2 separate regions of the Homo sapiens genome follow, and region 1 is linked to region 2. Evidence: fine-mapped expression QTL. Tissue or cell type: whole blood. Region 2 holds a variant in brackets; the other region holds the start of a gene. All regions are shown on one strand. Distances are between the middles of the regions.

Region 1 (8,183 bases), 39 kb after region 2:
CCTAGAAAATAAAGTTATTGGATTGGCATGGAAGGATTATGGGTAACATTTTTTTAAAAAAGCAGCTTTATGGAATGTAATTTGTGTACACCATTAAACTCATTCAAAGTGTAAATTCAATGATTTTTAGTATATTCACAGATACGTGTACCTATCAGCACAGTCCATTCTAGAAGTTTCGTCACTTCAAGAAAAAAACCCTGTGTCCTTCAGCTATTATCCCTGTCTCCCAGTCCTAAGCAACCACTAACCTACTGTCTCTACAGATTTCCCTATTCTGGACTTTCCTATAAATGGAATCACATAGTATATGGTCTTTTGTGACTGTCTTGTTTCACTTAGCATAATGTTTTCAAGGTTCACCTATGTGGTACCATGTATCAGTACTTCATTCCTTTTTGTGGCTGAATAAAATTCCATTGTACGGATATGGGTGACAACTTAAAGTTAAATTTCACTGTTTCAAAGCCATTTAAGAGTAATTTGAAGCGGCTGGGCACAGTGGCTCCTGCCTGTAATCCCAGCACTTTGGGAGGCCGAGGAAGGCGGATCACCTGAGGTCAGGAATTCAAGACCAGCCTGACCAACCTGGAGAAACCCCATCTCTACTAAAAATACAAAGTTAGCTGGGCATGGTGGTGCATCCCTATAATCCCACCTACTCAGGAGACTGAGGCAGGAGAATTGCTTGAACCTGGGAGGCGGAGGTTGTGGTGAGCCAAGATCGCGCCATTACACTCCAGCCTGGGCAACAAGAGCGAAACTCCGTCTCAAAAAAAAAAAAAAAAAAGTAATTTGAAGCTTTGAAAGACCCTTCTAACAACCTGCAATCCCTCTTCTCCTTCATAGTGACTGTCCTCACTGTTGCACATGTCTACGAAAAGTTGTCTACACTCACCTCTCTGGCTGCAAGACGGGGCCTTGCTATGTTGCCCAGGCTGGCCTTGAACTCCCGGACTCAAACAATCCTCCTCCCTTGGCCTTCCAAAGTGCTGAGATTACAGGCATGAGCCACTGAGCCAGGCCTCGGGCTTCTACTATGACATCTAACCAAGCTCTTATTGGTCAGCAGACATCCAAATTAATAAATTCAATTGCTCTTTTCTGTTTCTATCCTCCTCCATCCAATAGTTACTCCTTCACTTGTATTCTTAATTAGATAGTGCCAACTACCTATTTATTTATTTATTTTTTGAGACAGAGTCTCACTCTGTTCAGCCCAGGCTGGAGTGCAGTGGCACGATCTTGGCTCACTGCAACCTCCACCTCCTGGGTTCAAGTGATTCTCCTGCCTCAGCCTCCCCAGTGGCTGGGATTACAGGCACCTGCCACTGTGGCTAATTTTTTTTGTATTTTTAGTAAAGACAGGGTTTCGCCATGTTGGCCAGGCTGGTCTCGAACTCCTGACCTCAGATGATCCACCCACCTCTGCCTGCCAGTGTTGGGATTACAGGCGTGAGCCACTGTGCCTGGTAGTGCCAACTACCCTTTAAAAATATATCACTTTGGGACCGGACCTTGGCATGGCCAGGCCATGGCAAGACCCTGTCTTTACCAAAATTTTAAAAATTAGCTGGGCACAGTGGCAATGTAGTCCCACCTGCTTGGTGCGAGGATCACTTCAGCCTGAGGGTTCAAGGCTGCAGCGAGCAGTGATCGTGCCACTGCACTCTAGCCTGGACAACAGCGCAAGACCCTGTCTCAAAAAACAATTAAAATAGGCTGGGCACAGTGGCTCATGCCTGTAATGCCAGCACTTTGGGAGGCCAAGGTGAATGGACTGCTGGAGGTCAGGAGTTTGAGACCAGCCTGGGCAACATGGTGAAACCCTGTCTCTACAAAAATTACAGAATTAGCTGGGAGTGGTGGCACGTGCCTGTAGTCCCAGCTATTCAGGAGGCTGAGGCAGAGGATTGCTTGAGCTTGGGAGGCAGAGGCTGCACTGAGCTGAGATTGCCCCACTGCTCTCCAGCCTAGGTGACAGAGTGAGACCTTACCTGGAAAAAATAATAATAAAAATAAATATTGCTTTGTAGTTGAGAATGTGGGCTCTGATATCAGACTTGGGTTTGAGTCAAAGCCCTGCCTCTTATTAGCTGTGTACCTCAGGCAAGTTATCCTCTCTAAATTTCAGTTACTTCTATGTCATAGGTTGGTGTACGGATATAAGGCCGAGGGACAGTGTTTGACACATATATAAGCACTCAGTAAATGTGGACTATTATTATTATTGACAATTTTACTCCCTTGGCTCAGAGGTTCTGTCTTCAAGTTTCTTTATCATTTCCTCTAACCATTTCTTTGGGAACATCATTATTCCTCCTGTTTTTATTATTAACTCTGTCATCTAAAACACTACATGGCATACAGTAAGTAACAATTACATGTTGAATAAATAAACGACATCTCTTTCAACCTCTTGATTTGAATTAACAAAAATGTAGTGGACATTTTCACCCATAGTCCCACTGGCACTTGAAACGTTTAACTTAAAAAAGAAATCACTCAAGTTAGGTATTTTTTTAGCATCTCAAAGCTAACATTTCCTAAACCTAACACATCATCTTTTTATCCAAACATGCCCCTTCTGACTTTCCTATTTTAGTTACTAATTCAGCGTTTCCAAGCAACCGGGAGTTGGCAACTTAAATTCATCATTTGATCACTCATTCTTCTGAACCTCCTGTCTAACCATATGAATATCTTGTATATTTTATCTCCACAATGACCATGTTAATTCAGAGTCTCAATACTTCTTACCCACACCATTACAACACCTTAACGGTTCTACCTACTCCTTGCGTCTCCTGGACCATTTTCTTTAATAAAATACATCAGTAGCACCTCATAGCCTAAAGCATTAAATCCAATTTGTTAGCCTAGAATTCATGGCTTTCTACATAAGGGCCAAACCTAACTTTCCTGCCTTATTTCTCTCTACTCTCCTAAATGTACCGTTTCCAGATAACTTTCCTGCCTCCATACCTTTGTTCATGAGCTTCCCTCTAGCTGGAACACAACTCCCTCCACAACCCTCATAATTTCACTTAACAAAATCTAGTCTGTACATGAAAACTCATCTTAAATACCACCTCCTTTTTCTCTTTCCTGAGTCTCCCCATCCAAAATGATTTAGCAAAAATGATCTAAGTGCAAAAGAACTGCCTTTGAAATTATCTACAAGTCAACATATTAGAGTGCTTTATTGCTATCGTTTCTCCCATGCTAGCGTGCGCTCCCTACAGACAGAAATCGCGTCTTACTCTTCATTGCCTCTTCCAAAGGAACAATGCCTTTGTTTATAGGTAAATTAACGGGTTTCAGCTAGGGTCTCTGCACCTATCTCCAATACCCTTGCTTAGATATATTCTTATAGCTTGTCTACTAACAATTAACATTTGTGTAGCACTTTGAATTTTTTTCTTTTAGCCACGTGACAAATCTGTACAATTTATTATCCCAACAACCGTTCAGTATTTTCACTATCCCTTATTTCACAAATGAGGAAACTGAGAGCTAGACCAGCGTGGGGTTAGAGTACACCGGAACGCATCTCCAGGGCGCCCGAATCCCGTACTCCTTTTCCCACTTCATCCCATTCTCGACCGCCTCACTGCTCCAGGTCCCAACGCTCCAGCACTCCTGAGGTCTCTCCCTTTGCACATTGGAGCTTTCCTCCTCCGGTCCCCAGCCCCTCCACGGACACCACATTCAGGCTCACGTCCTCTCCTCCGCACTGCTTCCGCAGTTACTTCTCCCTAACCAGATTTTCTTCCCAAGGCTTCTTACCTAACCCCTTCACCCCAAACCCGAAACTCTATACTCACGACACACTAAGACTCCGAGTCAGGGAACGCAACTGAAAAACAAAAGTCAAACCAAGGAGCGGCGCGGCGCCACTGAGCGTCCCTGAATCCGTGCAATCGCGAAGAAGTTTACATGGCCCTTTGGAATGCGCACCAATGGGAAGGGCCTTCACACAGAGGCCCGCCCCCATCTCGCCCCTCCTCGCGGTGCTCCCGACCGCGCAGAGGTCTCTGGGAAATGTAGTTTTCTTCTGCCTGGAGCTCTGCGCGGGGCGACGCAGCTGGGCTGCAACCCGCTCCTCCAGGGACGGGTAGTGTGACGTTTGGGGTCAGAACGCACCACTTTCGGGCACCCCCACTTAAGATTGCTCAACTGCTTTGAGCTCAGGTACTTCGCGTTCATGGTACATATATGTTGTAATTTCCAAGCTTGTCTCAAGAGATAAAGATTCTAAGAAAAGTTTCTTCTTCCATGACCGGGTGGCCTAGAGCCAGGATAGGACCTGAGGTTCAGTTTCTACGGTCAGGGGACTATGTATTAAAATTCTACTATTTGTTCCATAGCAAACACTGCTTCCTTTTCCGGAGAAATGTAAGACACTGGGCTTTAATGATAAAAGCAAGTTCAAAATCCATTATGGTCTTATCTTTCCAGAAAGCAAGGTGTAAAGGTGGGGGAAAAGCACTTTCGTCTCAGAATTACAGCTACTGGTATGGAAAAGCTGGGGCCCTTCGCTGGTGTGAGTCCTAAGGATGTCTAAATGGAACGTGCATCTGCTACAGGCTCGCACTTTCCTTTATTGCGCTTCCCAGGTAACTGTTTTTACAAATGTAAGGTTTGTGGCAACTCTGCATGGAACCAAATCTATCTGCGCCATTTTTCCTACAGCACAGGCTTACTATGTGTCTCTGCACCACATTTGGTAATTTTCACAATATTTCAAACTTTTTCATAATTATTGTATATGTTATGCTGATCTGTTATCCTTTATATTACTATTATAATTGTTTAGGGGCACCATGAACCATGCCCATATAAGATGGCAAACTTAATTCATAAATGTTGTGGATGTTTTAACTGCTCCACAGACCAGCAGTCTCCCTGCCTTTCTCCCTCTCTTCTTGCCTCCTTATTCCTGTGATACAACAATATTGAAATTAGACCAATTAACAATCCTACAGTGGGGGTTCAAGTGAAAGGAAGAGTCACACATCTCTTACTTTAAATAAAAAGCTGAAAATGATTAAGCTCAGTGAAAAAGGCATGTTGAAAGCCAAGACAGGATGAAAGCCAGTCTTCTTGCACCAAAGTTAGCCAAGTTGTGCATGCAAAGGAAAAGTTTTTGAAGGAAATTAAAAGTGCTACTCCAGTAAACACAAAAATGATAAGAAAGTGAAACAGACATTGCTGATATAGAGAAAGTTTGAGTGGTCTGGATAGAAGATCAAACCAGCCACAGCATTCCCTGAAGCCAAAGCCTAATCTGGAGCAAAGTCCTAACTCTTCAATAAAATGAAGGCTGAGACAGGTGAGGAAGCTGCAGAAGAAAAGGTGGAAGATAGCGGAGGCTGGTTCGTGAGGTTTAAGGAAAGGAGCTATTTCCGTTACTTAAAAGTGCAAGGTGGAAGCAGCAAGTGCTGATGTAGATGCCGCAGCAAGTTATTCAGAAGAGCTAACTAAGGTAATTGATTAAGGTGGCTAAACTAAACTACAGACTTTTGATATATATGAACCAGCCTTTTATTGGAAGGAGATGCCAAGTAGTACTTTTGTAGCTAGAGAGAAGTCAATACCTGGCTTCACAGCTTCTAAGAACAGACTGACTCTCATGTTAGGGGCTAATGCAACTGGTGACTTTAAGTTGAAGCCAGTGCCCATTTACATCCCTGAAATCCTAGAGCCCTTAAGAATTATGTTAGATATAGTCTGCCTGTGCTCTATAAATGGAACAACAAAACCTGGATGACAGCATATATGTTTATAGCATGGTTAACTGAGTATTTTAAGTTCACCGTTTTATGTATGTTTTATTTTAAGTCCTACTGCTCAGGAAAAAAAGGATTTCTTTCAAAATATTACTTCTCACTCACAATGCAACTGGTCACCCAAGAGCTCTGGTGGAGGTATGCAAACAGATGAATGTTGCTTTCATGCTTGCAAACACAACAGACATTCTGCAGCTCATGGATCAAGGAGTCATTTTGACTTTCAGGTCTTATTAAGAAATATATTTCAGGCCGGGCACGGTGGCTCACATCTGTAATCCCAGCACTTTGGGAGGCTGAGGTGGGCGGATCACCAGGTCAGGAGATCGAGACCAGCCTGGCCAACATGGAGAAACCCCCGTTTCTACTAGAAATACAAAATTAGCTGGCCATGATGGCGCATGCCTGTAATCCCAGCTACTCAGGAGGCTGAGGCAGGAGAATCACTTGAACCTGGGAGGCGGAGGTTTCAGTGAACTGAGATCGTGCCATTGCACTCCAGCTTGGGCAACAAGAGTGAAACTCCGCCTCAAAAAAAAAAAAATATTTCATAAGGCTATAGCTGCCAGACATAGTGATTTCTCTGGTGGATCTGGGCAAAGTAAATCGAAAACCTTCTGGAAAGGACTCACCACCATTCTAGATGTCCTTAAGATCATTTGTGACTTGGCTTGGTGAGATGTCTCACACCTGTAAACCCAGCACTTTGGAAGGCCAACGTGGGTGGATCACTTAAGCTCAGGAGTGCATGACAAGCCTGGGCAACATAGAAAACCTTGTCTCTATAAAAAAATACAAAAACTAGCCAGGAGTGGTGGCATGCACCTGGCTACTTGGGAGGCTGAGGTGGGAGGATTGCTTGAGCCTGGGAGACCAAGGTTGCAGTGAGCCGAGATTGTGCCACTGCAGTCCAGCCTGAGTGACAGAGCAAGACTGTGTCTCAAAAAAAAAAAAGTAAAAATATATTTAATAAAAAAATTTTAAAAAGAACATTTGTGACTTATGGGAGGAGGTCAATATCAATAATAACAGGAGTTTGGAAGAAGTTAATTCCAATCCTCTTGGATGTCTTTGAGGGGGTTCAAGACTTCATGGACGAAATAACTGCAGATGCTGTGGAAGTAGCAAGAGAACTAGAATTAGAAGTGGAGCCTTGGGAGGCTGAGGCAGGAGAATCGCTTGAACCCGGGAGGCAGAGGTTGCAGTGAGCCCAGATCGCGCCACTGCAGTCCAGCCTGGGCAACAGAGCAAGATTCTGTCTCAAAAAAAAAAAAAAGTGGAACCTGAAGATGTGACTGAATTGCTGCAATCTCATGATGAAACTATGGATGAAGAGTTGCTTCTTATGAATAAGTAAAGAAAGTGGTTTCTTTAGCTGGAATCTACTCCTGGTGAAGATGCTGTGAACATTGCCAAAATGACAACAAAGGGTTTAGAATATTCCATAAACTTAGTCGATAAAGCAGTTGCAGGGTTTGAGGATTGACTTCAACTTTGAAAGAAGTTCTACTATGGGTAAAATGCTATCAAACAGCATTGCATGCTACAGAGAAATCTTTCATGAAAGGAAGAATCAATCAATATCATGAAAGGAAGAATGAAAACAACTTCATTGTTGTCTTATTTTAAGAAATTGCCACAGCCACCCCAGCCTTTAGCAATCAGCACCATGATCAGTCAGCAGCCCCCAACATCAAGGCTAGACCCTCCATCAGTGAAAATATTATGACTTGGCTTAGACGATCATTAGCATTTTTAGAATAAAGTATTTTAAGGCCAGTCGCGGTGGCTCACGCCTGTAATCCCAGCACTGCAGGAGGCTGAGACGGGCGGATCACGAGGTCAGGAGATGGAGACCATCCTGGCTAAGACAGTGAAACCCCATCTCTACTAAAAATACAAAAAATTAGCCGGGCGTGGTGGCGGGCGCCTGTAGTCCCAGCTGCTCGGGAGGCTGAGGCAGGAGAATCACTTGAACCCAGGAGGCAGAGGCTGCAGTGAGCTGAGATCGCGCCACTGCACTCCAGCCTGGGTGACAGAGCAAGACTCTGTCTCAAAAAAAAAAAGCATTTTAAATTAAGGCATGTAAATTTTTTTAAAGAAATAATGCAAACTAGAAATAATGCACTAGACTACAGTATCGTGTAAACACATAGCTTTTTTTATGTACCAGGAAACCGAAAATTTCGAGCAATTTGCTTTATGGTGATATTCACTTTATTATGGTGGTCTGGAACTGAACCTGCAATATCTCCAAGTTATGCCTGTACTCCCAAACCTGCTTTTTTCTCCCTTGTGATTTTCTCTGTTAATTACATTAATATCTTCCCAAACATCTCGGCTCGGTATCTTTTGTCTATTTCCTTTCTTTTAGCCCCTGCAATTTTTAAA
Region 2 (8,183 bases):
TCATGTGTATGGGAATCGTACAATATGTGGCCTTCTGTTTCTGCCTTCTTAGCAAAACGTTGCAAGGTTCCCCCTTGTAGTAGCATGTATCACTACATCATTCCTTTCCATGGCTGCTAATGTTCCATCATATGGATATACCGTATCCTGTCTATCCATTCACCAGCTCACGGACATTTGGATGGTTTCCACTTTTGGTCTATTATTAATAATACTGCTATGAACATCTATGCAGAAGATTTTGTGGGGGTGTATATTTTTATTTATCTTGGGTATATACTTATGGAGTGGAATTGCTGGGTGATATGGTAACTCTAAACTTTTCGAGGAACTGCCAGACTGTTTTTTGAAGGGGAAGCACCGTTTGACATTCTCGTCAGCAATCTATGAGGCCTCTAGTTTCTCCACATCCTTATCCAGTTGTTGCTGACTTTTTGACGACAGCCATCCTAGTGAGCGTGAAGCGGTATCGCATTAGTTTCCATTTCCTTAATGATGCTGAGCATCTTTCCACGTACTTATTGGCCATTTGTGCGACTTTTTTGGAGAGATGTCTATGCAGATCCCTGGCCCATTTTTGAATTGGGTGTGTGTTTTTTTAATTTAGTTGTAAGAGCTCTTTATATACTCTGGATACTAGATTTTCTCTTTCTTAATCCTCACAGTCACTCTGCTGAAACAGGTAGCTTTTTGTCTCTTTTACAAGCGAAGAGACTAGAGCCTGGAGAATTTTAGTAAGAGGTGTGATTGAATCCAGATCTGTGATTCTCCAAAGCCTGTACCCTTTCCACTATTTTATGCTGCTTCTTGGTGACAGAGTTTTAACCAATTGTGAGGTTTGAAGAGTGGCCACACCAGTGGGTGGTTAATATAAAGATGAATGTTATTGGAATTGAGACCAGGATGTTAGAAACATTATCAACTGATTGCTGAAGTCAATGGTAGTAGGTCTCAGAGTCATTTGTAAGTAAGTTGGATTATATGATATTTAAGGTTGCTTCTTACTCCAAAATTCTCTGATTTAATAAGCCTTTTTGTTTTGCCAGCAACAACAAAAGTAATAGTCAGGAAAAGCCAATTCCCTAAGTATTAGGACAGAAGGAAGAATCATGCACTTCTGTAAATCTCTCTGAGGCCTGGGAGCAGGGCACTCTTAAGAATTTTTGTCCCAACTGATCAATGAAAAAAACTGATCTGCTATCACAGGCTTTTTCTTTTTTTTTGAGACGGAGTCTCACTCCATCACCAGGCTGGAGTGCAGTGGCGTGATCTCGGCTCACTGCAACCTCTGCTTCCCAGGTTCAAGCAATTCTCCTGCCTCAGCCTCCCGAGTAGCTGGGATTACAGGTGCGTGCCACCACGCCCAGCTAATTTTTCTATTTCTAGTAGAGATGGGGTTTCACCATGTTGGTCAAGCTGGTCTCAATCTCGTGACCTCGTGATCCACCCACCTCGGCCTACCAAAGTGCTGGGATTACAGGCATGAGCCACCATACCTGGCTGATCACAGACTTTCTCAAGAAAGGTAACAGCTTCTGCGTGCAGTACAATCACCACCTTCCTTTACACATTGTTAACCATTTTAAATATGAAAACCTGGGTTCTCTCCTTTGTCCTGGGTAAATCAGAATGATGCTATCTTAAGCAAAGACCAACTTACTATCAAGAGGCTTTCTGGGTATGGAAACAACTATTTTGTCCCAAATGCAATTTGCCTAAAAACGGATGAAGTTTTAGTGTCATCCCCTTCGTACTAGCTTTGTTATCTCCAACACTAGATGATTTCAAAGGAGTAATTTAAAAAAACTTGTGGGCTGGGTGTGGTGGCTCACACCTGTTATCCCAGCACTCTGGGAGGCCGAGGCGGGTGGATCACCTGAGGTCAGGAGTTCAAGACCAGCCTGGCCAACATGGTGAAACCCTGACTCTACTAAAATAAAATAAAATAAAATAAATACAAAAATTAGCCGAGCATGGTGGTGAGCGCCTGTAATTACAGCTACTTGGGAGGCTGAGGCAGGAGAATCACTTCAACCCGGGAGGCGGAGGCTGCAGTGGACCGAGATCACGCCACTGCACTCCAGCCTGGGTGACGAGAGTGAAACTGTCTCAAAAACCCCCCAAAAAACCTTGTACACTTGCACAAAACTGCAGAGGCCATGGGACAAGAACGTAAACTGAGCTGCGTGAGTCATTAACGAAGCATAAATATAGTATTGAGAAGAAGTTACAGAAAACTCAAAGAAAATCTTTTGAGTGAAATATTTTATTGAAAATAGTTAATTTAAAATATATACATCATTTTTCAAAAGCCATGTGACTGATAAAAATATCAAACTTTCCATACAAGCATCATCTCAGCTTCATCCCCTCGGCAAAGTGTCTCCCGAATCTTTCCAGATGGACATTTCGTTTGAGTCTCTAGCGCCCTCTGGTGAAACACCATGAAATTGCCCAAAAACGTAATTCAGGCTCTGCTCAGGACGGAAGGTGAAATAGCAGAATGAGCGCCTATTTCAATGTGACAGGTTGTGATGTGCTGCCTTCTCCCCGAGCTCAGGAGAAAGGCAGCCTCTGTGAGTGCTTCTCTCTCTTTAGGGAAAGTATTCTTCCCATGGACACTCAGCCAAGCTTATTGCAAAATACCTTCTTCCTAAGTTTTCATCATCACTGCCTTCTGAAAAAACAAAAACCGGTCAATACAGACAGGATAAATAATGAAAGCCTCCAAGTCATTCAGGACCAGGCCCCTACTCCTCGCAAGTGTTAAAAGGACAGCAAAAATGATAAAGCAAGCTGAGTATGCAAGAAAAGCTTTCCTAGTGGTCCCCGATTCTTCAAGCTGTCTTTACAATAATGAATACCACCACTCTAGTCAACTCAGGTTTACATTTTCTGGCAGCAGATGACCTTGTCCTCAGGTTTCAAGAAGCACACCTCTTCTAAATGGGGGCCATTTCCAAAAGTAGACATTAACAGAGTCTAAGTTCATTCTCCAGACCAAACACTTTCGACTTAAGATTCTTCAGTTCTCCTTGTATCTTATGTGCCCGTCTATTGCTGTCACGGACCTCACACAGAAGGGCAAGATCCTGGTTTGCCCGGGCATTAACTGTTGCCTAGGGGTTTGAAAAAAAAAAAAAAAAAGAAATGATGATGGCATATGCCAGGGGAGCGATATCAGTCAAAAAGACACAGCTATGCTAGCTCCTTTTTGTGAGATTTTGAGTACATAGGATAAATTCCATCCTTTGTTCAGTGGCTAACTAAAGAAGGAAAATGTAGAATTAAGGCAGAAATCTCATGAAAATCCTTCCCATGCAATAAAGGAGGCTTGAGGTAGAGATCAATGCACCATGAAAGAGGAGTAAGAGAGGCCAGGATAAGCGACACTACTGGTAAGTTTGTCACAGAATGAAAGCGCAACACTACTGGTAAGTTTGTCACAGAATGAAAGCAGGCGTCTCCTCTTTTCTGCAACTAACCTTGTCTGGAACACAGGCTAACTGGCTAAATCTCATTAAGAAGACTCTTGAGGCGACTTGTATTCTAAAGAACTGTGTCTGCTGGAAAAAAGTACTCTATCACTCAATTACTCACCCTCCCCAACTGTAAGACAGACACGATTCTTTAATCTACTTCTTGAATTAGGAGGGATGACAATCTGTTTAGCTTACATCGAAGTATGAATGATGCAGTCGTTCAATGATTTCAGGGTCTTTTTATTTTCCCTCTAGCATGTTCTTGAACTAATTTTCAGGGAGGCTTGAAGATGGTGATCTGTTAGTGTTTACCAGCAGGGAAACAGCACATCCTTCTTTTCAGGGGCCCTCGTGACCATGTTCCCTCACTTACACCTCTTCTCTCCCTCGTGGCAATTCAGGACCAGCAATTACCTTATACAACATTTGCTCCAAGTCTTTCAGTTTCTGTCGGAGAACTTTAATATCTGTCTTAAAGCCTTCTACTTCCAGGATACGTCGACGCTCCAATGCCTCATAGCGTTTTGTCATTATCTGTAAACGCTTCCCCATCTTGTTAGTGCGATCCTAAATATGGGGAATGGGAAGGCATTTACGAAGGTGAGGGAAGCGTCTTCCCCAGCCATCTGCACTTCCTATTCCATTACAAGTGGCAGATAATTTCGTACCTTGAAGATCTCTCTCCTCATTCCCTCTTCCTCACGAATTCGGGCAAGTTCTTCTTCTAAGGAAATGCACTGCTCTTGGTACATATTGGACAGCTTTTTCTCTTGTACTAACTTA[T/C]CTTTTAGGGACTACAAGTCAAAGGGACAAAAAACATTAACACTCAGTTCTACAATTCAGGTAATTCAAGTAGCTTTTAGGCAAAGAAAGAAAGAAAAGAAGGGATTTCCAGAGGTACAAAATGAGTTAAGGAACCAGATGACAAGGAACTTTGAGGAACATCTGAAAATCTACTTCTAGACCAGTCTCTTAAGCCCTTTTTCTAAAGTGTACACAGTAAAAATTAAAACAAATATTTTTGGCTCTGGGAAGACTCAGATAACGGAGCTCAGAAGCTGTCCCAAGGAAGACATTACAATATATGTTTTGGGCTACATTTCTAAAGTTCTTCTTTAAAAAGGAAGAAATATTAACAACAACGCTTATTATACATGCCCTATTGAGCAGTTAAAATGATCTTTTAAAAACCCAAATCAGATCATGTTACTTATTTCACACAACCCTTCAAATACATAACACTATTGAGAGCTAAGTTCACACTCCATACGATGATGCACAAGGCCCTCCACAACTGGCTGCTGCCAATGCTGGCTTCTTAAAGAGCATACCACTTCCTCCTTATTTATTCCTCTACAACCATGATGACAGCCTTCCATTTCCTTGAACATACTCCAGGGCCTATAAACTTGCTCTTCCCTCTGCCAGGAATGTTCTTCCTCAAGGTCTGTATGGCAAGCTTAGTCCCATTTTTCAGGTCTCAGCAGAAACACTAGATATAAGAGAGTGTCCCTGTGCATTCCTTCTATTAATACAATGGACTTCCAGCAACTACATATAATTTTCATGTAATTCTTTTATTCCCTTAATACCGCATTTTATAATCTATAATTTTTTCTTTTTTTTTTTCTGAGACGGAGTCCTTGCTCTGTCACTGGGCTGGAGTGCAGTGGCGCGATCTCGGCTCACTGCAACCTCTGCCTCCCAGGTTCAAGCAATTCTCCTGCCTCAGCCTCTCAAGTAGCTGGGATTACAGGTGTCCGCCACCACGCCTGGCTATTTTTTTATATTTTTGGTAGAGACAGGGTTCCGCTGTGCTGGCAAGGCTGCTCTCGAACTCCTGACCTCGTGATCCACCCACCTCTGCCTCCCAAAGTCCTTTTTTTTTTTTGAGATGGAGTCCCACTCTGTCGCCCAGGCTGGAGTACAATCGCATGATCTCAGCTCACTGCAACCTCTGCCTCCCGGGTTCAGGTGATTCTCCTGCCTCAGCCTCCCGAGTAACTGGGATTACAGGTGCCCACCACCACGCCCCACCAATTTTTATATTTTCAGTAGAGACGGGGTTTCACCATGTTGGTCAGGCTGGTCTCGAACTCCTGACCTCAGGTGATCCACCCGCCTTGGCCTCCCAAAGTGCTGGGATTACAGGTGTGAGCCATCGCGTCTGGCCTAATCTATAATTTTCTTAGTTATTTGCTAATGTTTCTGTTTTTTCTCACCCATTAAAATGTAAACACCATGAGGGAAGACCTTGTTTAGATTACTGTAACTCTAGGGCCTAACCCATAGTACGAGTGCAATAAATATTTATGTTTTTTTGTGTTTGTTTTGAGACACAGTCTCGCACTGTCATCGGGGCTGGAGTGCAGTGGCACAGTCTCGGCTGACTGCAACTTCTGCCTCCCGGGTTCAAGCAATTCTCCTGCCTCAGCCTCCCAAGTAGCTGGGATTACAGGCACCCACCATCATGCTCAGCTAATTTTTTTTTTTTTTTTGTATTTTTAGTAGAGACGGGGTTTCACCATGTTGGCCAGGCTGGTCTTGAACTCCTGACCTCACGATTTGCCCACCTAGGCCTCCCAAAGTGCTGGGATTACAGGCGTGAACCACTGTGCCCGGCCAGGAGTACAATAAATATTTGTTGAATGAATGAATGAATGAATCAACAAGTCTAATATTTTGAATCCCCAAATACTACAACGATCAGCTGCTCTTTGAAACCTAGTTCTTGAGGCAGCTGCTACCAGAGCTTCCTGGACTGAATGGATCTTACATTACAAATTGTAGGTTCTTTGGAATTCCTTCAACTCTCCCAGAAAAATAAACAACTTCGTTACGACATAAGGACATTACCTTAATATATTCACTTTGAGCATGGTGACTCTCATGCATAACGGGCAACACTTTTCCAATTTTATCTTCTTTCTTCTTACACTGCACCCTATATTGCTTAATCTTTGACATCAAATTATCTTTTTCAAGCATCCATGACTTCTCTTTATTTTGGTTTTCAGATCTGAGTTGCAGAAAATCTTTGGTGCTCTCATAGAGCAGTTCTTGGGTGTGGTGAAGACTAGGAAAGAAAGTATAAATGCAGACATGAGGATGCGCACACAGCACACCTGAAAGCAAGGATTATTCCAAAATGGAAGAGAGTGGTTCTTTTAAAATGGTGTGATATATAAATTTTGTAAAATATTAGCAGGTTTAAAAATCTGATCACTGGCAATCTTACATGTTTTACTGGGTAAAGTATAATGTATCTACCCATGCTCACTGGTTCATAGACTGGTCTTTACAGGTACTTTCCTGAGTGCGAACTTCAGATTATATGATTAGAAGGACTACAGGGATATTTACACATAGCCTGCGTTAACTATGGACCATTCCTAGGAATAAGACAAGGAAGAACTAAATCACGGTGTTCTGACAAGTTAATACAAATTCTATAGTATCAAAAACAGCTTTGCTTTTGTGTATGCTGTGCTCCATGTAGAACTGCCTATATCAAAATCTTATCCTTTGTTTATTTTAAAAAGAACTTTTTTTTTTTTTTTTTTTTAAGACAGGGTCTTGCTCTGTCACGTAGGTTGGAGTGCAGAGGCACGATCACAGCTCACAGCAGCCCTGACCTTCTGGGCTCAAGCAATCCTTCTGTCTCAGCCTCCTAAGCAGCTGGGACCACCTCCCAGGGTGTTTGCCAGCTCATTAAAAATTTGTGTGTGTGTGGAGATGGGGTCTTGCTATGTTCCTTAGGCTTGTCTGGTCTGGAACTCCTGGGCTCATACACTCCTCTCGCCCCAGCCTCCCAAAATACTGGGATTACAAGTGTGAACCACTGCACCTGGCCTACTTTTTTAAAAATCAACTTCCTGTATGAAGTCATTTCCAACAACTTTAGCCTATTTTAATTCCTCCATTCTCTGAAACTCCATCCCAGGTTAATGTTCCCTTGTCTTATAATTCAACACTTGCTCATCTGTCATATTTTAACTGTCAACATGCACTTTTTCCCAGCCTGAGTGAAAGCATATACCTTATTTATTATTTTTGCCCCAATGCCATGAGATTGTCAAGGATAATACTAACTACTGGACATACACAGGCAGTTAACAGATTCATGGTGACTATTTCCTGAAATTTAGGAATAGACAACGTCTCTATCTTTAAAAAACAATATCCCTGGAAGTTAGCAACTCATCAGTTTAACATTACCACCCAGAAAAATGCTATACTGAATGATCTGGCTGCTTGCAAGAGTATTAAATACCATGAAGCAATCACTGTATTTTTCTACCAAACAAATAATGTGAGATCCACTTATTTTCATGAGTAACAGAGTGCACAGATAAGAGGAAATGACAGCAGAGTGCCAAGCACACAGTAGAGTAAATGTCACAAGGTGAATATATACAGTCAGGTATGTGTGCATGTGTATGTAGAGAGAGATTGATTCAATTACCACAAGGGTCTCTCTCACTTTCAATGAGTTATTTTATTCTGTCTTACATTATCTTCTCAATCTCAAACTGGGAAACTATAGGCTTGTTAAAATACAAGTAGCTTGAAAGTGATACCCAAAGGGCAGTCATTAACGGCCCTGGATTTCATGCCCTTCTTAGGAAGATCCATCTAATGGAAGGAACCGATCATGTGCTCAGATATGCAGATAACGCTAAACAAGGAAGGTTACTGGTA

Evidence for each region. PIP is the estimated chance that this variant, and not a neighbour inherited with it, causes the effect.
Region 1: CCDC77 starts here. The variant in region 2 is fine-mapped to the expression of CCDC77 in whole blood (TOPMed, PIP above 0.99).

Annotation. Positions count from the first base shown.
Region 1 is chr12:397,329-405,511 of GRCh38, reverse strand. It overlaps CCDC77 (coiled-coil domain containing 77), which reads right to left and starts at 3,868. Exons shown (of 13, transcript NM_032358.4): 1 at 3,828-3,868; 2 at 1. It overlaps LOC105369594 (a long non-coding RNA gene), which reads left to right and starts at 4,102. Exons shown (of 4, transcript XR_007063149.1): 1 at 4,102-4,194; 2 at 4,462-4,619. RefSeq lists enhancers at 3,058-3,610, 4,025-4,344.
Region 2 is chr12:436,710-444,892 of GRCh38, reverse strand. It overlaps CCDC77 (coiled-coil domain containing 77), which reads right to left. Exons shown (of 13, transcript NM_032358.4): 10 at 6,339-6,558; 11 at 4,151-4,276; 12 at 3,897-4,049; 13 at 2,251-3,119. The coding sequence ends at 2,973. Among named protein-coding and RNA genes, the nearest start is that of B4GALNT3, 19 kb to the left of the region's middle. The variant T/C (reference allele first, on the strand shown) is at 4,266.